Homo sapiens: one gene and its partners. The protein of the gene in region 1 interacts with the protein of each later gene in a pairwise test. Each region holds a gene or a part of one and is shown in the gene's direction. Other genes may lie near its edges. The genes, in order: WFDC2, ANXA2, ARL13B and PANX1.

What was found.
Region 2: the proteins of WFDC2 (region 1) and ANXA2 interact in binary tests that used the Homo sapiens proteins (3 or more experiments, as listed by UniProt).
Region 3: the proteins of WFDC2 (region 1) and ARL13B interact in binary tests that used the Homo sapiens proteins (3 or more experiments, as listed by UniProt).
Region 4: the proteins of WFDC2 (region 1) and PANX1 interact in binary tests that used the Homo sapiens proteins (3 or more experiments, as listed by UniProt).

Annotation. Positions count from the first base shown.
Region 1 is NC_000020.11:45,465,152-45,472,938, forward strand, and holds the start of WFDC2 (WAP four-disulfide core domain protein 2 precursor), read left to right. Parts: upstream 1-4,601; 5' UTR 4,602-4,630; coding exon 4,631-4,709; intron 4,710-5,237; coding exon 5,238-5,381; intron 5,382-7,787.
Region 2 is NC_000015.10:60,387,777-60,395,025, reverse strand, and holds part of ANXA2 (annexin A2), read left to right. Parts: exon of another isoform or gene 1-649; intron 650-1,585; exon of another isoform or gene 1,586-4,813; intron 4,814-7,249. UniProt on the Homo sapiens protein: Calcium-regulated membrane-binding protein whose affinity for calcium is greatly enhanced by anionic phospholipids. It binds two calcium ions with high affinity. May be involved in heat-stress response.
Region 3 is NC_000003.12:93,982,927-93,990,175, forward strand, and holds part of ARL13B (ADP-ribosylation factor-like protein 13B), read left to right. Parts: intron 1-5,019; exon of another isoform or gene 5,020-6,136; intron 6,137-7,249. UniProt on the Homo sapiens protein: Cilium-specific protein required to control the microtubule-based, ciliary axoneme structure. May act by maintaining the association between IFT subcomplexes A and B. Binds GTP but is not able to hydrolyze fit; the GTPase activity remains unclear.
Region 4 is NC_000011.10:94,152,630-94,159,878, forward strand, and holds part of PANX1 (pannexin-1), read left to right. Parts: intron 1-861; coding exon 862-1,001; intron 1,002-7,249. UniProt on the Homo sapiens protein: Ion channel involved in a variety of physiological functions such as blood pressure regulation, apoptotic cell clearance and oogenesis.

The DNA of each region.
Region 1 (7,787 bases):
TCTTCCTGCCTTAGGATCTTTGGACTTGCTTTAACCTTTTTTGGTAATGCTCAGCCCCAGATGATGTTGTAGATAGATGTTACACATCATTCAAGTCTCAGCTGTTGATAAAGAAGACTCTTGGGGTGAGCTTGATCAAGGAATGTTTGATGAGACAATGAGCCCAGGGAAGGTTTGTGCAGCATGAAGTAAGTAATGTAGCTGGAAATAAAAGTTGGTATCAGTCAAAAAGGCAGGCTAAGGAGTTCAGCCTTTATCCTGAAGGCAGTGAAGATCCAGTAGAATTTACAGTCAAGGAATTAACTCGACAAGTGCACTGTTCTAGGAAGATTATTTGGTTTAGGGCTGGACCTGAGCCACTTCAAATAGACAAGCTCTGCTTTTCATGGGTTTTTGTGCAGAGACCATGTGTATTTTTTTTTTTTAATGAGGATTTGGTTTGAACATTATTGCATGTATGCCACAAGGATCTTAACTGTGAGTTAGAAGAGAATGAGAGCTGAGAGAAGTCCACTGGATTTGGAAATGAGGAACTTGGTGGTTACACTGGTATAGGGAGTAAGATCTCTTTGGTTACTAGCAACAGAAACCAACTCTGGCTGTTGTAAACAGAGAAGAAATTTATAAAAATGGGATGTAGTCGGCATCCATTCTCCTTTCCTAATAATATCTCTAAGTTAGCCAGAGTTGAATTTTACTGCTTGCACCCAATAGCACTAATTGATTCAGTTTAGCTCTCAGAACTGAAGGAAAGGCTAAAAGAACACAGCTTGGAAAGAATGGTAAAGTCAGAACTGAGTTCTTCCCAGGACACCTCTGAGTTAGCTCCATAAATTTTCAGGTCTTTTATCATTCATTGCTCAAGATTACAGTTCTAGGAACAGTATTTGATTGGCCACTCTGCCTGGGGGTAGGGCAGACACATTAATTGACAGTCTCCCTGGCCCCACCTGTCTTGGTCTGGAGGAAGTTATTTCCTCCAAAGCAAACTCAGGGTGATTTATCAGAAAAAGGACAAATGAATGCTAGGTGACAAAACAAAATAGTCAATATATCCAAAGAGAGAGGTTTCCATGGAATGAAAGGAAGTTTGACTGAGTCCAAAAGTCTAAAAGGAGAGGCCCATTGCATGGTTAAAGGCACCTTTTTTGTTCCTGGAAACTTCTTAAATCTTCACCGTTAACTTGTTTACAGTCATTTTAGAGTGGGCATGTCTACAGCTAATTGACATCATCTACCACTATAAACTTTTCCTTCTTTCCTTTCTGCTTCTTTTCTTCCTCCTCTTCCCTGATATATATTTTTTTACACTCATGAAGTCAAGTCCAAAACTTTGGATGCATCATCTACGTTAACCTCAGATAGATCTGTGTGAATGTGTATAATATTGAAATAACTGGGACAACACAAGTAATTTGGCAAGAGTCTTCCCTCTGATTTACTGGCTGTGTTTCCTCCAGCAAGTCACTTTGCTTAGCTGAATCTCAGTTTCTTAACGTGTAAAATGGGAGTAATAATACTTAATCCATAAGATTGCTAAATACATATAAGCTATCTTTCACCAAACACTTACTATGTGCCCACTCCAGAGGTCACAAATTTAAATGTCCTCCTGGGGTCAGGTGAGCACTGTGAATGGAACTAGTTGCAGAGAGGGAGGATGGTGGTGGTGGGGATTATGGGAAACTGGAGGGAATGCTTCCCTCATAGAAAAAGAGTAGCTGTACTTAGGTTCTGGTTTTCAAAGTATGGTCCCTAGCCCTGCAGCATTGGCATCACCTGGAAACCTGTTAGAAATGCAAATTCTCAGGTTCCAGACCTACTAATCAAAACTCTGGGGATGGGGATCCTGCAATCTGTATTTTAATAAGCCTTCCAAGTGATTCTGATGCATGCTTAGGCTGGGCACTGTGGCTCACACCTGTAATCCCAGCACTTTGAGAGGCCAAGGCGGGCAGATCACCTGAGGTCAGGAGTTCGAGACCAACCTGGCCAACATGGTGAAACCCCGTCCCTACTAAAAATACAAAAATTAGCCGGGTGTAGTGGCGCCTGTAATCGCAGCTACTTGGGAGACTGAGGCAGGAGAATCGCTTGAACCCAGGAGGCAGGGGAAGGGAAGGGAAGGGGAGGAGATGGGAGGGGAGGGGAGGGGAGGGAAGCCTGGGGGACAGAGCAAAACTCAGTCTCAAAAAAACAAAAACAACAAAAAAAATGATTCTGACGCATGCTCAATTTTGAGACCTGCTGCTCTAGCTGATGGTTGTTATATCTAAGATTGCAGGACTGTGTTGCCAGATCTTTTACTTTTTCCAAGAGAAGCTAGAGGTTTATTTTTATATGAAATTCGCTACTTTTAAATCTTGGCAACTAATTTAAAAATTTAAAACATACTGTGTAGTTAATAATGTATGTGCTCTAGCCAGATTTGCAACCTCTGATTTATGCTTTTTCCTTTAACCCTTATAATAATCTTATAAAACCCTTATAATAATCATCCAAGACTGTTAGGATGATACACAGTTTATGCAGGAAGAAGATGCAGGCCCAAAACATGAAGTGTTTCTCTAAGTCACATAGCCAGAAAGTGGCCATGGATGCATTGTCCCTGATTGGGCATGGATGCATTTGGTTCTAAAGCCTCTGCCCTTTTAAATGATGTAAAGAGAATATCTATAACTATACCTAGCACGGAACTTGGCACCACAAAAGCTAAACATCTGATGCCATTGACTGATGAAAATTCCTTCCCCATCCTTCTGCCTGGCCCTGCCACTCTCCCTCAGTCTGTATTCCTGTAAGAGAGAGCCAATCAATAGGGTGCTCATAAGGGCCTGGGAGGAGCAAGGCTGGGCAGTTTCCTGGCCCAGGGAGCTGAATAGGGCCCGGAAGAAAGCTGTTGGCAGCAGTGCCTGGGGCTGAATGTACAGTAGCCAGCTGGGTCCACGGGCTAAAAACTGGCTGCTCACCCCAGTGTTCTCTTTGTGCCCTAGACTGGGTTTCACTAGCCTGTTATGGGCTGTGTTCCCACCTGGCTCCTGCCCTCATTGTTGACTGAGCTCAGAGTAAATAGCCCTGGCCCCTCCCAATAACGTCCCCAGTCCCCAAGTTGAGCATGAGAAGCTGGGGGAGGTGTTCTCAGCATCCATTTTGGGGACAGTGGCCAGATGTACTCACATCACCAAACCCTACTCACCTGTCACTATCATCCCAGTGTTCACTGCCCCAGGGCCCCTCTAGCCTCCAGCAGCAAAGACCTCCTGGGGCTTCTAGAACCTCAGATCATTGGAGCAGGAAGCACTTCTTGTCTAACTCCCTGGGTAACTCTGTTTTGGCACTTAACCCCCTGGATTCTAAAGCTTCATTTATACTTATTGGTCTCCTTCGTCACAGGAGACACTTATCTGTGGAGCACTCATGGCCATGTATCCAGTACCTATCATGGGTCAGGCCTGGAGTCCCTGTGTCAATCAGTGTGGATCTACTCTCAATGCTCCCAGTGAGTACATGGTTGTTCCGTGGCAGGAACGTTGCATTTGTGTTCTCACTGAAGTCCCATATAGGTGTCATTTTCACTGATGATGTGGCAGCTCAGATCCAGGAAAGGATTCATTCCAGGGCCCTCAGGTGGGAAGTGGTGGAGGTGGGAGTCAGACCCCAGACCCTGTCACCCCTTCAAGACCAGTGCTGGAGGGCCCCTTTTGACGACTTTCTCTTCACCAAGCGTCTTGCCCTGCATATGTCACACAGTAGGCACCCAGTGAATATTTACGACGGAATGGAAAAAACAAGGGCCTGGAGGGAGAGACCTGGGTTCAAAACCTTATTTGTACAGCTTTGCAGGGGACCTTGTGGTGGAGGTGCGGTCCTAAATCCCTAAACACTCAGTTCCTTTGTCATATACAGCTGATAACAGTAACTCCCCGGTCAGAGGACCGGCGACAATTCCTTGAGACAAGGAGCACAGAGCCTGGCACAGTCAGCCCTGATCAGGGGCCGGTAGGACAAAGAGAGGGAGACAGAAACACACACCCAAACGGCTTGAGACTGCTAGGTGCTTCACCTTCCTGGGCCTGTTTCTGATGAGGAGGGTTTGTTTATTAATAATAAGTGCTATTTCTGTAGCCCCTACTATGTGCTCTGTATCACTACCCTAGCCCTCCATCAAGAGGGATCTGCCCTCTCATCTGGCTGACCCCAAATCGAACCCTTTAACCCGCATGCTCTACTGCCTCCCTGCGGGCCCTGCCTTATCCTCCTCAACCGCCCACTGGGGACACTCTGGAGAAACCTCGGAGTCTTGGAATAGAAACCCAGGAGCCCTGAGCCTTGGCCCTCAGGCCCCAGGAGGGAGGTCAGGAGGGAGGCGTGGACAAGGGTCCGGCCGTAGCTGGTCCCGTCCTGGAAGCTGCTTAAGTTCCTGGTTCCCACCGGGGCCAAGAGTGATACCTGATCCTGGGGGATTGTGAAATGACCTCATGTGGCAGCCCGCCCGCGGTGCCCGCAAAGCCCTCCACCCTCCCCTTCCCCGCTCGGCTCCACCCCTACCCCACGCCCCCTCCCGCGCGCGCGGTTAAATCCCCGCACCTGAGCATCGGCTCACACCTGCACCCCGCCCGGGCATAGCACCATGCCTGCTTGTCGCCTAGGCCCGCTAGCCGCCGCCCTCCTCCTCAGCCTGCTGCTGTTCGGCTTCACCCTAGTCTCAGGTGAGTGGGGCGGGGAGAGGCCCGGCGCCTAGAGGGGCCGAGCCACGAGCGCCAGGATGGAGCCAGGCGGAGGCGTAGCCTCTGGAGGCTGGGGAAGTGGGAATTCCGGGGGCGGAAGTGGCGGGGACCCTTGGAGCCTAGGGTGTGGGGTCCAATGTGCTGGAGGTGGAGAGACCACTGATGGCTGCAATTTGGGAGGATTCTGTGCTGAACGCGGACACTCCGTGGCTGCAGTGGGCTGGGGGTGGGGGCTGCTCTGCCTCGACCTCGGAAGCTCCGAGACGCTCAGCTGTGCGGCGTCCCCTAGGGCTGAGATCTGAGGGCCCCGACGCCAAGGGTTAGGGAGCTCTCGTACTCCCAGGGGTCAGGGACTCCTGGTCTGGAAGAAGGAGTCTCTGGGGGCTGTAAGGGGACTCCTAGGGCCAGAGACTGAGAATTCCTTGGGGTTAAGGTTTGGAGCAGGAGGTGGGCATCCTCTGGGGCTGGCGCTACGCCCCACCCTCGACTGTCCCGGGCCTCCCCTCCCAGGCACAGGAGCAGAGAAGACTGGCGTGTGCCCCGAGCTCCAGGCTGACCAGAACTGCACGCAAGAGTGCGTCTCGGACAGCGAATGCGCCGACAACCTCAAGTGCTGCAGCGCGGGCTGTGCCACCTTCTGCTCTCTGCCCAATGGTAACCCCACGGCGGCCGAGCGGGAACGGGGCGGGGCCGCGCTGGGCTGGGAGGAGGTGGGAGGGCCCGGGTTCCGGGAACAGGGGCGCCCCCGGACCCGGGGACCCCCGGGAAAGTCAAGGCGGTTGAAACCAGATCCGTCAGTCCTCTCCCTCGCACGGCCCAGGGGTAGACAAAGGCGTCGTTGAAACGCAGCCAAGGGGGGGTCCCCACCCCTAGCTGGGATTCGAGTCTCTGGTGCATGACGGGCTTCCGGGCACGCACAGCCGGGACATTGTTCCCCGCGGCCTGGGGACCCGGGGCCGCAGTTTCCTTCTCGAACCGGCCGAAGCCTGCCCTGCGGGAAAGCCCGGAGCCTGGGGCGCTCACCTCTCCTCTTGGAGTCCCTCCCTGGGGGCCTCCCCCAGCCCTGGGGAAAGACTGGGAGAGCCTGGCCTGGCAAGATTTTCCCCAATTCCTCTGTCCAGGCGGAAAGGAACTTTACAGATTTAGGAAAATGCCCCGCTCATCTTAAAGATGTGTAAGGGAGCATCGGTGAGAAAAAAATGTTCTTGCCCAAGGTCACACCGCCATCCCATGGCTGCTGGAGTCATAGTGAGGGTTCAGCTTTTGCCTTTCAGGCCAACTGGCTGAGTGATTCGAAGAAAGTGAGGAATCCTCCCTGGACACTGTATCGCCCTTCGTCGTCTTTCAGTCAATCTCTTCCACTCTAAGGATTGAGTGAGCGCGAGCTGGGGACTCTCTCAAAGGTGCTTGCTGGAGCTGCAGTCTCCACCAGGCTATCAGAACAGGGGGTGGCTTAAACAGCATGGAATCTCAGCTTTCCGTTCTCCAGAGGAAAATGCTGAGGATTAGAGGCAGGGATAGGACCTGGAGAGAACCAAGGTACTGTAATGATGTTCTTTATCCAGAATACAGCCCCTGTGACTTTTCCTCTCTGTTATTTCCTTGAAGATGCCAGCACAGGCTGGGAAGGTTTGTAATACGGTGACCCAAGACACCGATCAGCAGGGAGGTGGTAAGTGGAGGGGGACTGGCAGCCCACCAAGGGCAGCTTCAAGGTCATGAGTCCCCTCCTCTGGGCCAGGGAGAGGAGGACCAGAAGGAGAGAGGAAGATTTGGAGAGAAAGCAGGCAGCAGCCAGATGAGAGAGGTGGAGGAGCAAAGGAGGGAGTCTTTGCTGTTTGATGGATGAAGAATTTGTTCCCTTATCTCAGATGGACAGACTGAGGCAGGAAGAGGGACAAGGTCAGATGGCCTCCTGAGCCAGGGAGGCAGCCTGGAGGTTTGAATCCTAGTTCTGCCATTTTCTAGTTATGTGATCCTGAGCATGTTGTTTACCTCTCTGAGCCTCTGCTCTAAGATGGGAATAATTCCAAACTCTATAGGATTGGCATGAGGACTAAATGAAATAATGCATCTAAAGTGTCTATTAGTGAGAAGATACTCCATACACAGTGGCTTGTTTTGATCATAAATGGTTCCCTATTTATTTCCAGGGCAGCCCAATATTACAGGTTCCTACTCCTTTCAAGAGAATGAATTTCTTTGTATTAGGAAGTCAAGACTGTTGGCAACTTAACAACATTTTTTTTTGTATTTATGCTTTAAGTTCTGGGGTACACGTGCAGAACGTGCAGGTTTGTTACATAGGTATACATGTGCCATGGTGGTTTGCTTCACCCATCAACCCGTCATCTACATTAGGTGTTTCTCCTAATGCTATGCCTCCCCTAATTCCCAACCCCCCGACAGGCCCTGGTGTGTGATGTTCCCCTCCCTGTGTCCATGTGTTCTCATTGTTCAACTCCTACTTATGAGTGAGAACATGCGGTATTTGGTTTTCTGTTCTTGTGTTAGTTTGCTGAGAATGATGGTTTCCAGCTTCATCCATGTCTCTGCAAAGGACATGAACTCATCATTTGTTATGGCTGCATAGTATTCCATGGTGTAGACGTGCCACATTTCCTTTATCCAGTCCATCACTGATGGGCATTTGGGTTGGTTCCAAGTCTTTGCTATTGTGAACAGTGCTGCAATAAACCTATGTGTGCATGTGTCTTGGGCATTTGCGTTGGTTCCAAGTCTTTGCTATTGTGAACAGTGCTGCAATAAACCTATGTGTGCATGTGTCTTTATTGTAGAATGATTTATAATCCTTTGGGTATATACCCAGTAATGGGATTGCTGGGTCAAATGGTATTTCTTGTTCTAGATCCTTGAGGAATGGCCACACTCTCTTCCACAATGGTTGAACTAATTTACACTCCCACGAACAGTGTAAAAGCATTCCTATTTCTCCACATCCTCTCCAGCATCTGTTGTTTCCTGACTTTTTAAGGATCTCCATTCTAACTGGTGTGAGATGTTATCTCATTGTGGTTTTGATTTGCATTTCTCTAATGA
Region 2 (7,249 bases), on another chromosome or scaffold:
TTAAATAGAAATGGAATGTTCCTCTTTTTTTTCACATGAGAATCCTCTTCACTTGCCCTGGTGCCACACCCTATTCTAGTTGTAGGCCACACCAGAGGAAATTCCAGTCCTTCAAAAAAATTCTTTCCACCCATTCACTGCCTGGTATCTTTTTTCTTCTGCTGTTGCCAGAGGCAGTCCTCATCTACTTTCTCCAGGGACAGGTCAGCAGTAGGGGTCAGGAGATGCCCATATTTGTCCTTCTGGGTGGTTCTACCAGATGACTTCCAAATCTCCCTTCTAGGGTACACCCTGAAGCTGTTTTTTTTTTTCTTTTTTTTTTCTTTTGAGATGGAGCCTGGCTCTGTCACCCAGCCTGGAGTGTAGTCGCACGATCTCTCCTCACTGTAGCCTCCGCCTCCCAGGTTCAAGTGATTCTCCAGCCTCACCCTCCCGAGTAGCTGGGATTACAGGTGCCTACCACCATGCCGGGCTAATCTTTGTATTTTTAGTAGAGACAGGGTTTCATCATGTTGGCCAGGCTGGTCTGGAACTGTTGAGCTCAAGTGATCCGCCTGTCTCGGCTTCCCAAACTGCTGGGATTACAGGCGTGAGCCACTATGCCTGGCCCACCCTGAAGCTTTTAATCCAGCTGAGCTCAACTGGACAGGTCGGTAGCACCCAAGTGGCCTGAGTTTTACCCCAGGTGTGGTGTAGAAATTTCTTATTCTAGGGAGTGACTGTGTTATGGAGCCCTTTGTCCATGTCCTTTGTCTCCCTGCCACACCCAGGCTATACACTCACAGCTCAGAGGAAATCAGAGTCCTAAGGCCACTCGTACATCCTGCCTCTTTGCTGCCTTCTTGCTAGGAGTTGTAGGTTACGTTCCCATGTGGTCCTATGGACAGAGCTAGGGTCCAAGTATCCCTGACAGCACAGAGGTGGGGGGCATGGCTATATGTTGATAAGAGGCTGCCCTGAAGCGACCTGCTGGGCTTTGCTAAGATTTGCAGAAGTTGGTGATTTAAGCCTCCAACTCTGAATGCACGGAACTGGAACTGCATTCGAAATGTCCAGTCTGAGGGAGAGAGAAAATTGAGGAAGGAGAGTGTGTTGGAAAAGAAGAAAAAAAGACTTTCTAATATAGAAAGACCCAGTGTGTGTAAACCATCCCAAGATGAAATTGAATGCCTATCGTGTGCCAGGCACTGTGCTCAGACCTATGAGGAAACAGGAGGGAGTTAAGTTGGAAACCCTGTGGGCGGATAATACGGAAGACAGACTTTACACATGTAACTCTAATGTTGCACAGACACACAAAAAGCTGCAGAAGCACAGGGCAAGGAGGGGTGTGTGAGAAAGGCGGCATTTATGATTTCCTGTATCCTAAAGACTCATTCAGATGTCAGCTAATTAAGATTGAGGTTCCTGGTGGAGGGAACTTAGAAAGTGCTGAGCGTGTTTGGAGAAGAGTTAACAGTCCAGTTAACTCTTCTGTGCAGGATGCGTGTATGCATGTGTGTGTGTATAGAAGATATTTAAGGAAAGGTAGGTAAGTCCACAGTGTGGAAGGTCTTGAATGCTGACATTAGACTTTTTTCTGTAGGCGGCCAGGCCCTGTTGAAAATACAATATGTGGGCCATAAAACACTGAAATTGAGTTGCAGACTTGAAGGCCTGGATTTCCCAACCCTGAAAGTGCTTCATGCCAAGTGACATCATTCTTCCTGCCGGTCTCTTTCCACCCACTCCAACCCCAGATCAGGATACCAGCAGAGAGAGGCTGTGAGAGCATGAAGCTGCAACAAGTCAGTAGGGAGCAAACAAATATTGATTCAGATCAGGCCACAGAAGAGACAAGCTGGAGCAAGTGCTGTGTGTCCCTCCTGCTCAGTTTGATCGAGGTCACTGGGCCGAATTCCAGGAATTCTGGGGAATGAGTTGGCCCTGTGACTCAGTCATTAATCAAGACCATAAAACCAAGGAGAAGAATATCTGCTTTCAAAAAGGTTCTGATAAATAAAGATGCAGTAGGTGGGTGGAGGATGGAGTACAGTGGGAACCCCTCTCCTCACCCAGTACATTTTTTTTTTTTTTTTTTTTTAGTTTAAAATTCCAGTGTGGCCTGTAGACTGTGTGTCCAGGACTGTGTACAGTAAGAGCTTTGATGGAGAACCCAACTCTCCACACTCCCACCTCTACCCATTTTTGCTTTAAAATCTTCATTTGAATCACCAGTCCCTGATTGATTCACCATGGTTGCTAAGAATCTGTTTTGCGGTAACGCATCAACACTCCACGTTTAAACTGTGAAGTGGGTGTGTCCACAAAACTTCTGGATTAGACTCAGATTTGCCTGTGCAGACCAGCCCTGTTGCAGTATGTTTTTGTTTGTTCAGATTAACATTTGGGCTTTTTGGAACTGGTTCTTAATTTAGTTCAGTAGAATGTGTTTTTACTATTTGAAGTGTTGACTTTTAAGTTTTCTTTTGTTTGTTTGTTTTAACCTTTTTGTAAACTTTTACTCTTCTTTTTGGGAGTAAAGTTAAAACTGCTTCACTTGTCCTTTTTTTGTTTGTAACTGCACTTTCGTAGTGAAGCAATAGAATACAATAAAATCTATAGAGTTTTTTTTTTTTTAATAAGGACAAACCCTTAAATTATTAGGTTGGTACAAAAGTTAATTGTGGTTTTTGCCATTAAAAGTAATGGCAGTTATTTTTGCACCAACCTAAATAATATAGTCCTTATGTTAAATGTAAATGACTTGTTTCTCAATAACTGCACTGATTTCATTAATGATCAGCCTTGCACTGTGAGCTTTTTTAGCCAGGCATTCACAGTCTCATTTATCAGCCTTTTCAAGGCAGAAGAAACTGTTCTTTTCATTAGGGTGGGGCCAAGTGACCTGTTTTCCTACCCAAGTAGTGAATGATTTTAAACCAGTTTGAGGTGGGTATGGCTCTTATCAGTGAGTCTCCCTGTACCTCTAGTTTATTTCCTTAAACAGAAAAACGTTCTCTGATAAAGGGTCATTTTAATGATGTTGTCTAGTGACCCTGCCCTCCCTGGGAATGGAAGGCACGGCACTGATGTGTATGTAGATGTACTCATCAACAGATTGAATTTGCTGATTTTTTTTTTTTTTTCTTGTTGGAGAGTTGAAACCAGTCGGCAAGCTGGGTGAGGTTGAAGTGTTGGAAAGAGTGGTGCAAACTGCCATTTTCATGTTCTTTAGAGAAGTCTGCCAGAAAAGGAGTAGTGGTTCTGTTTTTAATGGATTTATGAGTTTTATACGGTGATGAGGAGTGAGTAGAGGTGAAATTGTCTCATACAGCATGTAGGCTTTATTTTTTATTTTCATTCAAAACAGTAAGTACACTGAAGTCAGAGTAGTTGTTTTCAGTAAGAAAATTCTGCCTCCAGAGCAAATGTTTTGGTGAATAGATAAATATGAGTACTGAGTCCCAATCATTTTGGCTCATAGGTTCCCCAGTATTTCCATAGGCAAGCTTAACTTTGCACCATTCAGAGACTTATATTTTAGGTTCCCCACAGGGCACCCCACTGGACGTGGCTCATTTTCCAGCCTGTAGTCTTGTTCTTCTGCCACCCTGGGGCATTATTCCTCTTCCCCTCTCCCCAGGCCTTCCCCCTTGCTTCTTGGCTGGAACCTCCCATGGTGATTCACCCTTCTCAGCCTAGGCAGACAGCACCTCCCTGTTAAGCCCTTAACTAATCCCGCTCTGATGGCTGTGATCTTTCTCTCTGTGTCTTAATCACTTGGAATAAAGAACCATTGTGGTGAGGTTGAAAGGGCATTGGCCCAGGAGTCTGGGGATCTGGGTTTTGGCCCTGCCTCAGCTACTTAATTCACTGGGTGACCCTGGACTAGACTCTCAGTGTGTCACAGAGGCACGAAGGGAAGAGAGCTCAAAGGTCCTGCAGGGTGGAAGTCTGCATTTCACAGTTTTATAAGTGTCTTTTGTATCCTTTAATATAGTGCAGGCTCAGCGTATGCTTGGTATGGGTTCGTTGATTAATTCCTTGCGTATTACCAGTGTTTGTAACCTACAGTAGCACTGCCAAGACTTCCTTTTCCTGCTTTCAAGGATAGCAGCACACTGACACATTCTCATTAGTCAAATATGCTATATTAAACTAATGTTTTAACAAACAGTGAATCGCAAAGCCAACTGTTCCTTCCAGCGAATAATAGATCATATGCAAAATGACTTTGCATTGCTAGGGGATTTGATGGAGTGAAGAAGCAAGCACTGTATTTTATTTCTTTTTATTTTGTTTTGTTTTTTGGACATAACCTCAAGATTTTATTGTCCTCATAATAAAACAAAAGATGATGCTTAGAACTGGATCACTTGGCCCTTTCTTTTGTTATCTCCTCCCAGTTGAAAATGTTTGCATGTCTTAACAGCCAGCATTTTCTTAGATCTGCAGATGGGGTCAGCACACTCAAGCCTCAGCACAACCTCCTTTGTAATTTTACCCGTTTTCCAGAAAATTGCCTTAGTCTACCCACCATAGTCACTCTGCTTCTTGTCATAACGCCGCTTTCCCTGGGCATACAGGGAGTCCTGGTATTGTGCCGTTTTGTGGGGTTGGTGCTTGCCACACTTCTTACAGAAAGCCCAGTGGGTTTTAGGAATGTTCACCATGTTTTCCGGAATGCTATCGGCATGGGAGGAAAGTGGCCATATTTTATTTCTAGGGTGAAAATGTTTGCCATTAAACTCACATGAAGTAGGAAATATTTATATGGATACAAAAGGCACCTGCATGGGATAATGTCAAATTTCATAGATACTGCTTTGTGGTAAGTGTGACTTTGTGGTTATTGTGATGTTTGTGTTTTGTTTTTTTTTTCTGCAAAATGGTTATACATAGTATAAATGTTATGCAAAATAGCAACTCATTGTTTTCAAGTTGATTTAGCACCTGCATTATGTAAAGATAATCTGAAATCTGTAGGGGGACTGGGACTATGTAGGGAAGATGAGGTCAACCATATACTTTCTACTGCTTTGAATTGTACCTATGCATTCACCATTTGAATACTTGGCACGTGTAGGGCACTTAAAACATTCTGCCGAATGGATGAATGAAGTGGTATCAAAAAGTGCCCTGGCAGTGAAAGGCAAGATAGAGTTCTGTAGAGTAGGGGTCGTGGTGACCCTGTTGGAGCAGATACTGAAGTAGTGGTGAGTGCGGAGAGGCAAGTCACATTTTGGCCCTAGTCAACTGTAGCTGAGGAGTAAACAGAGGGAACTGTTTACTGTTTACAGGATTCTGATGCTCATCTTTGAAGGCTGGGCTCTGCTGGAGGACTGATTTTGAATGATGTCAAATGATTTTGACAAGATTAAATGGGGAGATTTAGTTGGTGGTGGCATGCAGGACTGATTTGATGAAAGAGCAGCACAGTTATGAATGGTGAAACCGAAAGGAAGATTTGTGGGGCTTTTAACAGTCTCCTCAAGGTGTTGTGGCTGTGGGAGAAGAATTAACATGAATGGAGAGTGTAAAGAAGCCTATCAGATTGTCTTTGATCTGCACAGTACTGGGGAGTCCCATGTGGGACACGGGTAGGCAGCAGTCTACAAAGCTCAGAGCTGGAAAGACAACTTGAAAGAACAACACAATGAAAAGTTACCGTGCCTCTAGTTGAGATTTTCTAAACATCGGAACCAATGTGAGGTGTCTGATTTCATAAACAAGTGGAATTTAATCTATACTCTCTAAGTGGAAACAACTCTGTTTGCAACTCTGACTTGCTAGTTCCCTGGTTTTGCTTTTGTTTTACGTTTGGCATTTTTTATTTCTTGCCTGTTTATGGTAGAGACTAGAATTCTGCACAGCAGATGACAACAGTTTATCCCCTGCTGCAGACCTGGTCCAGTTCTGACTGAGTCCAGGGGTGATAGTTAAGGCCAGGGCTTGGGTGGTTTGATGTCCATCCTAGGAGTTTCACCTCTGCTTCGGTAATTCTCGGGCTGAGGGATACTGATGAGACCCTCTAGAATGTTTCTTGGTCCATGTTGAAGTTAGAGATTTCTTGCTCTGTCAAGAAGACTGTCAGCCTGGGCAAGGTAACGCGACATTATCTCTACTGGAAAAAAAAAAGCCAGGTGTAGTGGCACACGCCTGTAGTCCCAGCTACTTGGGAGGCTGAGGCAGGAGGATCTCTTGAGTCCTGGAGATCAAGGCTGCAGTGAGCTATGATTGCACCACTGCACTCCAGCCTGGGTAACAGAGAGAGAAACCCTGTCTCAGACAAAAAAAAAAAAAAAAAAGGTCTAGGTGTGGTGGCTAACCCCTGTAATCTCAGTGCTTTGGTAGGCTAAGGCGGAGGGATTGCTTGAGCCCAGGAATTCAAGACCAGCCTGGGCAACACAGTGGGACCTTGTCTCTACTGAAACATTAAAAAAAAAAGGAAAAAAAATGGAAAAAGGAAAAAGGAAATTAAATGGAAATAAGATATATTCAACATATCATAGTTGTAATTGTAATATATGATCAATATATAAATTATTGGGCTGGACACAGTGGTTTATGCCCGTAATCTCAGTGCTTGGATCACTTGAGGCTAGGAGTTCGAGACCAGCCTGGGCAACATAGCAAGACCCTGCCTTTACCAAGAAAGAAATTATAAATGAGAAATTTTATATAATTTTTTCATACTATGTCTTCAAAATTCAGAATGTCCTTTACACTTATAGCACATCTCAGTTTGAACTGACCACATTTCAGATGCTTTGTAGCCACATGAGGCTGGTGGCTACTGTATTGGACGGTTCTGCTACAGAGCAAGACTATTCTAAATTGTCTTTTTTTTTTTTTGAGACGGAGTTTTGCTCTTGTTGCCCAGGCTGGAGTGCAGTGGTGTGATCTTGGCTCACTGCTACCTCTGCCTTCTGGTTTCAAGCTATTCTCCTGTCTCAGCCTCCCGAGTAGTTGGGATTACAGGCGCCCGCCCCCACGCCCAGCTAATTTTTGTATTTTTAGTAGAGATGGGGTTTCACCATGTTGGCCAGGCTGGTCTCTATCTCCTGACCTCGTGATCTGCCTGCCTCGGCCTCCCACAGTGCTGGGATTACAGGTGTGAGCCACCGCACCCGGCCGATTGTCTTCATTTTTAGGAAAGTTTTAGGTTCATGGCAAAGTTGAATAGAAAATACAAAGAATGCCCATGTTCCCCTGTTCCCACATACGCATAGCTTCCACTGTCAACATCCCGTATCAGGGTGGTACA
Region 3 (7,249 bases), on another chromosome or scaffold:
TTGTGCTTTTATGGTGTTCTCTATTTTTTCAACAGAAATTGCCTGTTTGATTATTATGTATATATTTGTTTTCTGTAGAATTTCTTATTAAGATTCCTCTTCATGTTTATATTTTATGAAGATGAAATGTGAGGAGTGAATTTGTAAAAGAGATGATGATGGTTATTAATATACTATATTTGAGATTACTTTGCAGATTTGTTTAATACATTCTGTACCCCAGTACCCATTGTATTTGTTCACCTCTCCTCACTTAGATCCTTTCCTAGTGAGCATATTATTCCAGACATTGGAATCAGGGATTAGATTTGTGTGATAAGGACAAGGCAGGAGTCAGAGATCAAGTGTTAAGGCACCAGTCTAGGTCAGCAGTCAAGATCTTATAAAAGTTTAACGCTTCATCCCCCTTAGTGGAGTACTGAACCCCACTTATTTGGGGTTTGGTATGGCCCCATTCATGAATTTTGGTTCAGTTTGGTACGGCTCCATTCATGAATCAATGAATGTGGAAATAAACTCTTGAAATTTTATTGTTCCTAAGTTTATCTTTTAAAAATATGTTACCAAATTGCTCCTCAGAAAGGATTAAAAAAGAGAAAACACAGTTTCTACTCCTACCAACAGTACGTTGGAGTGCCTTTTTCACTGAGAAAATCAAGAGTCATCGGTTTTTCATCTCCTTCACATTATAGGGGAACCTGCTTTCTGCTTTGAGTTTCTGGGGTTTTTTTTGTTTTGTTTTGTTTTTATTACTAGGAAGATTAACTTTTTTTCCTTGCGCATTTTTGTTTCTCTCAGCAGTTGTCCATTGATTACTGTTGTGTTTTTTCTATTGGGGCAGGTGTGTTTTCTTAATGAATTTTTAAAAAGAAATTTTAAGTGTTTGTCGTAGCTACTGTTTCTCTGTAGTACAATTGACACTTGAACAACGCAGGGTTTAGGAGCACTGAACCCTGCCTTGCCAGCACAGACAGAAATCCACATATAACTTTTGACTTCCAAAAAACTTAATTACTAATAGCCTCCTGTTGACTAGAAGCCTTACTGATAACATGAATAGTCAGTTACCACATATTTTTTATGTTATATGTATAATTTATTGTATTCTTAAAGTTAGAGGAAAGGAAATGTTAAGAAAGTCATAAGGGGCGGAGCACGGTGGCTCACGCCTGTAGTCCCAGCACTTTGGGAGGCTGAGGTGGGCAGATCACTTGAGGTCAAAAGTTCAAGACCAGCCTGGCCAACATGGCGAAACCCTGTCTCTACTAAAAATACAGAAATTAGCTGGGTGTGGTGGTGGGCACCTGCAATACCAGCTACTTGGGAGGCTGAGGCAGGAGAATCACTTGAACCTGGGAGACAGAGGTTGCAGTGAGCTGAGATCATGCCACTGCACTCCAGCCTGGGCGACAGAGCAAGACTCTTGTCTAAAAAAAAAAAAATTAAAAAGAAGAAAAAAATACATTGACTATTTATTAAGTGGAAGTGGATCATCATAAAAGTCTCCATCCTCATCTTCTTCCCATTGAGTAGGCTGAGGAGAAAGAGGAAGAGGGGTTGGTCTTACTGTCTCAGGAAGGTTTCAGAGGCAGAAGAGGTGGAAATGGAGGCTGGGGAGGCAGAGGAGGCAGGAGAGGAAGGCACACGTGTAACTTTCATTAAAAACAAATTTGTGTGTAAGTAGAACTGTGCAGTTCAAACGTGTGTTGTTCAAGGATCAGTTGTATAATATTGCAAGTATTTTCTTTCCATTTGTTATATTTTCAACTTTTTGTGCTTTTTAAATATAAACATTTAAAATGTTTGAATTCAGGCTGGGTGTGGTGGCTCACACCTGTAATCCTAGCACTTGGGAAGATCGCTTGAGCCTAGGAGTTTGAGATCAGCCTGGGCAATATAGTGAGACCCCATCCGTACAAAAATGTTTTAAAAAATTAGCCAGAAGTAGTGGCATGTGCCTGTAGTCCGAGCTACTTGGGGGGCTGAGGCAGGAGGATCGCTTGAGCCCAAGAGGTGGAGGCTGCAGTAAGCCCAGGTTGCCCCACTGCAGCCTAGCCTGGGTGACAAAGTGAAACCCTGTCTCAATCAATCAATCAATCAATCAATCAATAAGACTAAATAAAAATTTTAAATTCAAATATATTACTGTTTCAGTGTAATGTTTAGAAAGTTCATCAGCATTACAAGATTACATTCACATATACTTTTTTCTTGTAGTTTTATATTTTCATTTTTAACATTAAAAACTGTTAATCTATTGCAATCTATTTAGCTTATAGGGAGCAGCCTTCATCCTGAGTACAGGACACAAGGTCTGTGAAGCTATGATGCTCAGTAAATCTCTGGGCCTTATAGCAGATTCTAACCCTTACACATTCTCATCTACAGATTTTGAGCTCCTGTTATTTATAACATAGCATCTAGGTGATGAAATAGTGCATGTAAAATATAATGATCGAATATGCAAGAGTTGAAATATGATTTTTAAGATTTTTAATGAGAATCAGGAAAGAGGATTTTAGAAGGGGTGTAATTTTACCTGGGTCTTGAAGAAATTCATGCAACAAATTTTGCATACAAATTTTGGCAACAAAATTCTTTGTTTATATGAAAATATACATGTTATATAACTTCTTATATATTATGCATACATAACTAACAAAAATGTTTTTACTGTTATTTAACCAAAAAGAAAGATATAATAAGTACCATATGCCTGCCAGGTTTTATAAATATTAATCTTTAGTCATCATATTTCAATTTTATTTTAATAAGTAGGTAACAAATCCTTGAAACTTCCTGCCCCCTATTCATCTCCCACCATTCTTCCACAGAGTTAACCTTTAATTGGAACTGATTTCTTGTCCATCTGTGTTTTTTCAGCATCACAAATACAACCTATCAAAGCTTTACTTCAAATTTATTAGTAAATTGTTTGCTGTGGCCAAGTCTAAAATAAGATACAGTACACAATGTTTCTAGTGGTCTGTTTTGTCCTCTTTGCTATGAACTTTTTCACTGAGGGAATACTTAGCTCCCTAATACCATCATTCTTGGCCTAAATAAATATAACTGTAAATCTAGACCATTTATAGAAATTGCTGAGTTCTTAATTTTCCAATTAAGCTGTATGTACAGATTAGCAAGGATTATCTATTGTGCTGTATGCTGAACTGGAATATTTTACATCTCTTTTTATCCCCCTAGTTCTTCTTGATTATGCATAGTAAGAATTTTAGAATTTTAATATAGAAAAGGACCTAGAGACATTCTTATTTTACCCCCTTATATTTTAGAGATGAAAAAATGGACACTAAGAATTTGACTTGATCAGGGCTTAAAAGCAGGCTATAAACCCAAGCTTGGCCTTCTCACTATTTATTCATACTCAGTAAATTTAGATAATGATTTTGCTGTAATATGGGGTTCTAGATCTGAATTGAAATGTCAGAAAATAGTGTACTGCAATAAAATCACACTGTTTTTTCGATACATTTTTTTCTTTCTATCAATTTGTCGTATAGTGATTTTTTAAAATTCTCACATATGTATCATAAAACCTTGTTCTAAAGTCTTTTTTTGTATATGTATTTGTTACTTTTAGAATTTATGTTTATGTTAAAATTTAGAATTTGCTTCATGTAGTTTTAAATACTGTAGATAATAGAGTTCCGATGTGTCAAACTTTGATTTTAGTGTTTTTAGCGAAATGTTTTCTTTGACTTGCATAATATTTTTGAAGTTAGAAACAGCTTTTATGGGCCAGGCATGATGGCTCGCACCTGTAATCCCTGCACTTTGGGTGGCCGTGGTGGATGGATCAGTTGAGGTCAGGAGTTCGAGATGAGCCTGGCCAACATAGTGAAACCCTGTCTCTACTAAAAATACAAAAAATTAGCCAGGCATGGTGGCAGACTCCTGTAATCCCAGCTACTTGGGAGGCTGAGGCAGGAGAATTGCTTGCACCCAGGAGGCAGAGGTTGCAGTGAGTGGAGATCTCGCCACTGCACACTCCAGCCTGGGTGACAGAATGAGACTCCGTCTCTAAAAAAAAAGGAATAGCTTTTATCTAATTATCATATTGAAAGTATTGTCTTCCTTAGTTAAAAGATGAGGAAGTTTAGACTTGTAGGTGTTCAAATGATTGTGATAATGTCATTCAGGAAAGATTCAGAATTTAAATGTTTTCTAAGTTCAATCCTCCCTAATGCCATGATGCTTATATTTCTGATTTTTTTTTTTTTTAAATAGAGACAGGATCTCACCATATTGCCCAGGTTGGTCTCAAACTCCTGGGCTCAAACAGTCCTCCTGTCTTGGCCTCCCAAAGTACTGGGATTACAGGCATAAGCCATTGTGCCTGACCAGTATTTCTGATATATTAATTTGTATATCCGTTATATAAAAAGGAATTCTGAGATAAGATATTCTCATATTCTCACTTAGGAGATCTATTATATACATTGTGTTGACTTGAACAATATTAATTATTAGCTTCTGGAGTATGGAAGTCTTCACTTGTTTCGGCAGATAGCTAAAGTGATGTAAAACAGACCTTTGGATCCCTTAATCTCTACCTTTGATTTTTTTTTGTTTTTACTAAGAATTATTTCAGTTTTTTCTTTTGTAATGGAGATTTTATTTGTCGTGTTGAGAATAAGTATACAGACATTTCAAATTGTACACAATTCTTAACATACATACCAAAAATCTAGAAAACCTCTATTGTAATTCCTTTTTCTGAAACGGTCTCTCTCTATTGCCTAGGCTGGAGTGCAGAGGAGTGATCACGGCTCACTGCAGCCTTGACTGCCCGGGCTCAACCGATCCTCCCACTTCAGCCTCCCAAGTAACTGGGAGGTGCATGCCACGATGCCTGGCTAATTTTTTTTTTTAATTTGTAGAGACAAGGTCTCACCATGTTGACCAGGCATGTCTCAATCTCCTGGGCTCAAGTAATTCTCCCACCTTGGCCACCCAAAGTGCTGTGATTATAGGTGTGAACCACTGCACCCGGCCTCTTTTTTAAATAGTTATTATAGTGACATTCCAACTTAACATTTGGAGGCAAATTTTTCTTAAGAGGATTATCAAGAGCCAGTATCTACAAGTGTTTGATAAGCTGTACACGTTCTACCAATTCACAGTTTAATAGCATGTACACTATATACCCAAATTTTCAATCTTTCACAGCACATTAACACAGTTATTAGGAAATCAGGACTTCTGTGACCAAAGATGTTATAGTGTACACAGTTCTGACAGGGAGAGCCATGATCAAGGAGTGGTTTTCTTTAGGAAACAATTCTGTGAAAAAAAAAAAAAAACATGGCAATAGAAGTAATTTAAAATGTTCAAGACATTAAATGCAGGATTCTGACTCTGTATTGCCATTTAGTATATTTTGTATTACAGTATATAAAAACTAAGCCCCCATCTGTGGAATGTTAAGCTGACATCCAAGACAGTCAAAACTTCCTGTAATTCAATATCCCATACTATTCTCTGGTTTCACCAAAAAATAAACAACCAGAGAATTATTTCACCTCAGAAAAAACTTAACAATGGAATGAGGTGGGAGTTCCTGCTACTTAAAATGTTTCTAGAGCTACTAAAAGACTTGCACTTACAAAGCAGTTGATAAAAATACCCTGGATTGTACAAGAAGGGAGACAGGGACTACTGATAAGACATGGTATATGATATTAATCAGACTTGGCTTCTTTCTCTCCTGCTTCATCAAAGGTTGGAGTCTCCTCGGTTTTAGTTTCTTCGTTTTCTGCAGGTAAATCTTATTTAGTTTCTTGGTTAGCCACTTTGGCCTGTTTTCCCTATGCTCCCCTTTTCCCATTTGTTTGCATTTTTTTTTTTTTTTTAATCTGAAGATTTAGCCTTTCCTGATGCCTCTTTGGCTTCATTTCCACTTTTGCAGGAGCAGGTTTAGCTGACAAGTGCGCAGATCTCCTCTTGGGCTCTTGCTTCGCCACCCCTTCGGCTGAACTGACCTTCCTCTTGGGCATCTTGGCGGCAGGAGGGGCACTTGCTGGGCACCTGTGGGCCACGGAGCTGAGAGCCTTCGCGAAGCTGGGCTGCCTGGCTACTGGCACTCCTCCCGCTGCCCGAGCTGCTGAGACCCCTATTTCAGTTTTGAAAGTCTTTCTGTTAATTAGTACCTTGAAACCATGAGCATGTAAGCTTTTTCAGAAAACTTCAGCCAATTTGATATATATGGATATAATTACATTCTTTAATATGAACTATTTTGATGTGAAGATTTATATAAATTAGCTTCATTATAGTACTTTCTCAATCTAAAGTTATGTATTTTAATTTTACTTAGTATTTACTCAGCAAATGGGGTTCAGAAAATGTTTGTTGTTTCTTTCAGTAAAGAAGCCTACTGTGTGCCCAACACATTTGATACAGGCACTACAGAGCTGATAAAGAGAAGTTCTGGTAGAGGAGCCTGTATAAAAAGTAGCCGGGGATGGTTGTGAAGGGCTGAAGGAGTACTCGGCATGGAAGGAATCCTCGGCATGGCAGGCTTCCTGGGAGTGGCAGAAGTGGGGGCTGCCAAATTGAGACTTGATTCTCTATAAGGATTTTAAGCAGAAAAATGCTATGGTTAATTTTTTTTTTTTTTTTTAAACAGCCTCATGCTGTCAACCCAGGCTAGACTGCAGTGGCATGATCCCAGCTCATTGAAACCTTATTTAATTTTCATTATATCCCTTTAGAGTAGCTATTGTTATTATCCTATTTCATTCATGAAATTCTGAAAAGTAATGTGCCATATAGCTTAGAAATGGCAAATCTGGCACTTGAACTCAGGTCTCTAACACCAAATTTGTGGCTACATTTCAGAGTACCCATAATACCTCTTATGTTACTTATTACTAGTATAACATACTGTAAATCTTATAATACTACAGAGTCCTTTGTATCTCAGCCTTTCTAGTAATCAAAGACCCAGGGATGACTATAATATTAGGAGTAAGCGGCTCACTTTCAACTTCTGGAAAGGTTACATCATTAATTATTTGATAATACAGTTTGAGTATCTCTTTTTTTTGTTTTGTTTTGTTTTGTTTTGTTTGAGACGAAGTCTCCCTCTGTCGCCCAGGCTGGAGTGCAATGGCACGATCTCAGCTCACGGCAACCTCCACCTCCTGGGTTCAAGTGATTCTCCTGTCTCAGCCTTCTGAGTAGCTGGGATTGCAGGTGGGCGCCACCAAGCCTGGCTAATTTT
Region 4 (7,249 bases), on another chromosome or scaffold:
GGAGGACACAGCCCTGCCTGAGCCTTACGATCCTATTGGTCAGTTTCCCTCCATGGCCTGTGTGTGTCAGGAGCACAAAGAGTCTTCCAGATGGTAGGTTTTACAGATGTGACGGTAGCATCTGCAGAGAGATGTAATCTTCAGTTTGCAGAGGAGAAAACCAAGTCCCAGAGTCCCTTCCCAGAAGAGCGAGTGAACGGTAGAGCCCCACCAGGACCCAGGTCTTCCCATTCCCCATCTACCGCCCATCTGCTGTTGGGAGGTTTGCAGTCGTGAGCGTTTCCCTTCCAAATGTAAACCAGTTGGGCTGCAGTTTCAGCCTGTTTCTTCTTTAGTGTTACAGGAGGTAGGAAACCACTGATTTCCCATCCAGTGTTCTATTACCAATGTTCCCTTCAGCTTTCTCTTCCTCAGGCTAATAGTTCTTTGCTTCTTTGTTCTAAAAGAACTTGTTTTTTTAGTCCAATTTTCCGCATTCAGGTGCCTCACTGACCCTCCCACATAACCTTTCCTTTTTCTCAATCCTTACTCCAAACTAAACCAGGTCTCTCCACGCTTGCCTCTTGAATTCTGGGCTCTGGTTCTTTTCCTGCTTCCTTTTTCTTTGTATGGTAGTTCTACTTCTTTTAAGAATTTTTCCCCAACTGAGGCCAAGCTGCTATCATGACCAGTGTTGGCCAAAACCACTCTGTGATCTTTTGTTTTAATATGAACTTGGGTGTTTGTTTTTAGTTCTGTCCTAATGTCTCCACCTCCTGTCCTGGTGCTCCCTAACTTAGACAAAACTAAAAACATGTGAGATGGGGACAAGAGTCCAGGTAAGCTGTGTTTTCATTGGAAACTATCTGTTTTGCTTCTTAGGTACACAGATAAGCTGTTTCTCTCCAAGTTCTTTCTCCTGGCGTCAGGCTGCCTTTGTGGATTCATATTGCTGGGCGGCTGTTCAGCAGAAGAACTCACTGCAGAGCGAGTCTGGAAACCTCCCACTGTGGCTGCATAAGGTAAAGGGAGACATTTCCAAATAGAACCTGTTTGCTTTATAGATAAGGAAACTAAAGCCCAGGGAGGCTATGCCAAAGACCACACAGATATTGTAGCCAACCAGTGCTGTATCTCAGATTGTAAAACTGTAGCACCTTATAGTCAAAAAGAACCTCAGAGATGACTTGGTGTAGGCACCATCATTTAGCACAATGGGGCAATGGGAAGTGTTCTTTGAGTTTTAGCTCTATAACAGCAGGCACCTTTTGTGTCTTGACACCTTTATATCATAATGCCCAGCAGGATGTCTGGCCCGTAGTAGGTTCTTAGTACATTTTGAGTGTCTGAATGAGCATAGCTAGACAGTGGCAGAGCTAGGATTCATGCATAGCTTCTCAGCTAGCACCTTTTCTACCACACACAGGGTCTCTTGCAGAAAGTAAGGACTGACCTAGAGTTCAGTTGCTTCTAGCTGATACGTTACTGGAACATCAAAAAGCCTAGTGATGAGGCCCTCTGGGGGTGTTGGCTGTAGCACTGTTTTTGGAATGGATCCCTTTGCTTTTTGATAGATCCAGATACTGCAGGGAAGGGGAGATACTACACAAGAGACACCAATGTCTGGGTTCCACTCCACTTCCCATAGAGAAGAGGTACATTCTGTAGTCAGGGAAGTGGTGGTTTGTGCATGCAGGTGGCAGGGGATGCAGTGAGGAACTTAGGCAGCAGTTGATAAGTTTGTGCAGAAGAATGTTCTCTGAGTTATGAAGTGACTGCATTAGGTCTTCTCTGTGCTTCTGAAAGTAGGACTTTGTTTCAGCCTGTCATTAATTTCAACCACTGTTTCTTTTGTCCATTGTGAAAACAATTAGAATGTGTATCTTCTGGTATTCTTTTCTGCTGAAGAAAATATAGAATTTTAGCTTTCGAAAACCCAAAAGCCAAAGTTTGACTCTCTTCTGCTTTGACCTGCTTCCAGACACACCATCAGCATCCTTCTTCGTAAAAGGAATGATTTAAGGGAGCTATGACTCAGGCATGTTTGTTTATAGTTGACCCTTGAACAATGTGGGGGTCGGGGCACTGGTCCCCTGCACAGTCAAAAATTTGTGTGTAACATTTGACTTCCCCAAAACTTAACTACTGATAGCCTACTGTTGACTGGAAGCCTTACCAATAACATAAACAGTCAATTAACACATATTTTATATGCTATATGTATTATATACTGTATTCTTACAATAAGCTAGAGAACAGAAAATGTTATTAAGAATATTATAAGGAAAAGAAAATATATTTACTATTCAGTTTGTGCAAACGTAATTGTGGGTTTTGCCATTAAAAGTAATTGCAAGGTGGGTGAGGTGGGCGGATCACCTGAAGTCAGGAGTTTGAGACCAGCCTGGCCAACATGGTAAAACCCCGTCTCTACTAAAAATACAAAAATTAACCAGGCGTGGCTGGGTGCGGTGGCTCATGCCTGTAATCCCAGCACTTTGGGAGGCCGAGGCAAGCGGATCACTTGAGGTCAGGAGTTCGAGACCAGCCTGGCCAACATGGTGAAACCCCATCTCCACTAAAAATACAAAAATTAGCTGGGTGTGGTACGGGTGCCTGTAATCCCAGCTACTCGGGAGGCTAAGGCAGGAGAATCGCTTGAGCCCAGGAGGTGGAAGTTGCAGTGAGCTGACATCGTGCCATTGCACTCCAGCCTGGGGAACAAGAGTGGAACTCCATCTCAAAAAAAAAAAAAAAAAGCCAGGCATGCTGGTGCATGCCTGTAGTCTCAGTTACTCGGGAGGCTGAGGCAGGAGAATCACTTGAATGCGGGAGGTAGAGGTTGAAGAGAGCAGAGATCACACCACTGCACTCCAGCATGGGCAACAGAGTGAGACTCCAAAAAATAATAATAATAAAATAAATATATAAAAGTAATGGCAAAACGCGCAATTACTTTTGCTCCAACCTAATATTTATTAAGTGGAAGTGGAACATCATAAAGGTCTTCATCCTCGTTGTCTTTATGTTGAGTAGCTCAGGAGGAGGAGGAAGAGGAGAGGTTGTTCATGCTGTATCAGGAGCGGTAGAGGCAGAAGAAAAGCCCCATAAAAGTGGGCCCATGTAGTTCAAATTCATGTTGTTCAAGCGTCAACTGTACTGCTTGCCATTTTGCATAGTGGTGCCCTATAGTGACTCTTTTCTCCTTTTAGGTTGGGCTTTTCTCTTTATTTTCAGCCATAGGTGGGTTCTCGTCAGCTTTGCATGGTTTAGTAGCCAAGGCAACAAATAATAGGACTTGCAGTGTGAATGACCACAGTTCTAAAGTTTAACAGCTTGCTTTGTAAATCCAAATTTTTACTGTTGTAGTTTAAGTTCGTTTGTTATAGTGTTCTCATGAAAATAGAGAGTTTTAATGAGTCACTGGGCTGCCTTTGATGGATCCGCAGGAGAATTGTCTAAGAGTTGGCAGGGGTGTTAGTAATTATTTTAGAGCAAGAATAAACTGAAAGATTTTTTATCCAGATGTATTTTACATTTAAGGGTAAGGGAACTTTGAGGGATCTAGCCTAAAGGTTATAGGACCAGTTACTGACCAACACATCAGAGCTCAGATCTTCAGACTTCTAGCCCATTGCTCTTCTAGTCAAGGAAGGGGAAATCTGGAAACAGTATAGGTAGCCAAACCTTAAGTTACCTGGTATTAATGAGAGATTAAGAAACCCTCTTTCTGGCAGTGGAAGACTGCTTGTTTGAATGGAGGTTTATCTAAGTTTCTCAGCAGAGCTCTTGCCAGATTCACAAGGCTGGGGACAGAAATTGAAGTCAGGACCTGCCACGTTGGAAGGACCCTTATTAACACTCCTTGGCATTTGGTTGGGACTCTGAAAGGCTGTTCCTTGAGAATAAGGGGCGATCCAGAATTAATCTAGCTCCCATAGGGACAAGAGTCCTGATTTAAATCATTGCAATAGCAGTTGAATGACAGAGATCGGGGATTACGAGTGTCTGGTCTACTTGCCTGCCAGAAGTAAAAATAAATCCTTTCTGGAGGATTTTCTGGGTGTGATTATCATTCATCTTTTTTTAAAAAAAATTATTTTTCTCGTTTTTTTTTTTCCTTTTTTTTAATTATACTTTAAGTTTTAGGGTACATGTGCACAACATGCAGGTTTGTTACATATGTATACTTGTGCCATGTTGGTGTGCTGCACCCATTAACTCGTCATTTAACATTAGGTATACCTCCTAATGCTATCCCTCCCCACTCCCCCCACCCAAAAACAAGCCCCAGTGTGTGATGTTCCCCTTCCTGTGTCCATGTGTTGTCGTTGTTCAATTCCCAACTATGAGCAAGAACATGCGGTGTTTGGTTTTTTTGTCCTTGCGATACTTTGCTGAGAATGATGGTTTCCAGCTTCATCCATGTCCCTACAAAGGACATGAACTCATCCTTTTTTATGGCTGCATAGTATTCCATGGTGTATATGTGCCACATTTTCTTAATCCAGTCTATCATTGTTGGACATTTGGGTTGGTTCCAAGTCTTTGCTATTGTGAATAGTGCCACAATAAACATACATGTACATGTGTCTTTATAGCAGCATGATTTATAATCCTTTGGGTATATACCTAGTAATGGGATGGCTGGGATGGCTGGGTCAAATGGTATTTCTAGTTCTAGATCCCTGAGGAATCGCCACACTGACTTCCACAATGGTTGAACTAGTTTACAGTCCCACCAACAGTGTAAAAGTGTTCCTATTCCTCCACCTCCTCTCCCGCACCTGTTGTTTCCTGACTTTTTAATGATCGCCATTCTAACTGGTGTGAGATGGTATCTCATTGTGGTTTTGATTTGCATTTCTCTGATGGCCATTGATGATGAGCATTTTTTCATGTGTCTGTTGGCTGCATAAATGTCTTCTTTTGAGAAGTGTCTGTTCATGTCCTTCGCCCACTTTTTGATGGGGTTGTTTGTTTTTTTCTTGTAAATTTGTTTGAGTTCATTTTAGATTCTGGATATTAGCCCTTTGTCAGATGAGTAGGTTGTGAAAATTTTCTCCCATTCTGTAGGTTGCCTGTTCACTCTGATGGTAGTTTCTTTTGCTGTGCAGAAAGAAGCTCTTTAGTTTACTTAGATCCCATTTGTCAATTTTGGCTTTTGTTGCCATTGCTTTTGGTGTTTTAGACATGAAGTCCTTGCCCATGCCTATGTCCTGAATGGTATTGCCTAGGTTTTCTTCTAGGGTTTTTATGGTTTTAGGTCTAAGATTTAAGTCTTTAATCCATCTTGAATTAATTTTTGTATAAGGTGTAAGGAAGGGGGATCCAGCTTCAGCTTTCTATGTATAGCTAGCCAGTTTTCCCAGTACCATTTATTAAATAGGGAATCCTTTCCCCATTTCTTGTTTTTGTCAGGTTTGTCAAATATCAGATGGTTGTAGATATGTGGCATTATTTCTGAGGGCTCTGTTCTGTTCCATTGATCTATATCTCTGTTTTGGTAGCAGTACCATGCTGTTTTGGTTACTGCTAGTAGCCTTGTAGTATAGTTTGAAGTCAGGTAGCATGATGCCTCCAGCTTAGTTCTTTTGGCTTAGGATTGACTTGGCGATGCAGGCTCTTTTTTGGTTCCATATGAACTTTAAAGTAGTTTTTTCCAATTCTGTGAAGAAAGTCATTGGTAGCTTGATGGGGATGGCATTGAATCTATAAATTACCTTGGGCAGTATGGCCATTTTCATGATATTGATTCTTCTTATCCAGGAGCATGGAACGTTCTTCCATTTGTTTGTGTCCTCTTTAATTTCATTGAGCAGTGGTTTGTAGTTCTCCTTGAAGAGGTCCTTCACATCCCTTGTAAGTTGGATTCCTAGGTATTTTATTCTCTTTGAAGCAATTGTGAATGGGAGTTCACTCATGATTTGGCTCTCTGTTTGTCTGTTATTGGTGTATAAGAATGCTTGTGATTTTTGCACATTGATTTTGTATCCTGAGACTTTGCTGAAGTTGCTTATAAGCTTAAGGAGATTTTGGGCTGAGACAATGGGGTTTTCTAAATATACAATCATGTCATCTGCAAACAGGGACAATTTGACTTCCTCTTTTCCTGATTGAATGCCCTTTATTTCCCTCTCCTGCCTGATTGCCCTGGCCAGAACTTCCAACACTATGTTGAATAGGAGTGGTGAGAGAGGGCATCCCTGTCTTGTGCCAGTTTTCAAAGGGAATGCTTCCAGTTTTTGCCCATTCAGTATGATATCAGCTGTGGGTTTGTCATAGATAGCTCTTATTATTTTGAGATACGTGCCATCAATACGTAATTTATTGAGAGTTTCTAGCATGAAGGGTTGTTGAATTTTGTCAAAGGCCTTTTCTGCATCTGTTGAGATAATCATACGGTTTTTGTCATTGGTTCTGTTTATATGCTGGATTACATTTATTGATTTGCGTATGTTGAACCAGCCTTGCATCCCAGGGTTGAAGCCCACTTGATCATGGTGGATAAGCTTTTTGATGTGCTGCTGGATTCGGTTTGCCAGTATTTTATTGAGGATTTTTGCGTCGATGTTCATCAGGGATATTGGTCTAAAGTTCTTTTTTTTTGTTGTTGTGTCTCTGCCAGGCTTTGGTATCAGGATGATGCTGGCCTCATAAAATGAGTTAGGGAGGATTCCCTCTTTTTCTATTGATTGGAATAGTTTCAGAAGGAATGGTAACAGCTCCTCCTTGTACCTCTGGTAGAATTCGGCTGTGAATCCATCTGGTCCTGGACTTTTTTTGGTTGGTAAGCTATTAATTTTTGCCTCAATTTCAGAGCCTGTTATTGGTCTATTCAGAGATTCAACTTCTTCCTGGTTTTAGTCTTGGGAGGGTGTATGTGTCGAGGAATTTATCCATTTCTTCGAGGTGTTTATAGTATTCTCAGATGGTAGTTTGTATTTCTGTGGGATCAGTGGTGATATCCCCTTTATCATTTTTTATTGCGTCTATTTGATTCTTCTCTCTTTTCTTTATTAGTCTTGCTAGCGGTCTATCAATTTTGTTGATCTTTTCAGAAAACCAGCTCCTGGATTTATTGGTTGTTTGAAGGGTTTTTTTGTGTCTCTATTTCCTTCAGTTCTGCCCTGATGTTAGTTATTTCTTGCCTTCTGCTTGCTTTTGAATGTGTTTGCTCTTGCTTCTCTAGTTCTTTTAATTGTGATGTTAGCGTGTCAATTTTAGATCTTTCCTGCTTTCTCTTGTGGGCATTTAGTGCTCTAAATTT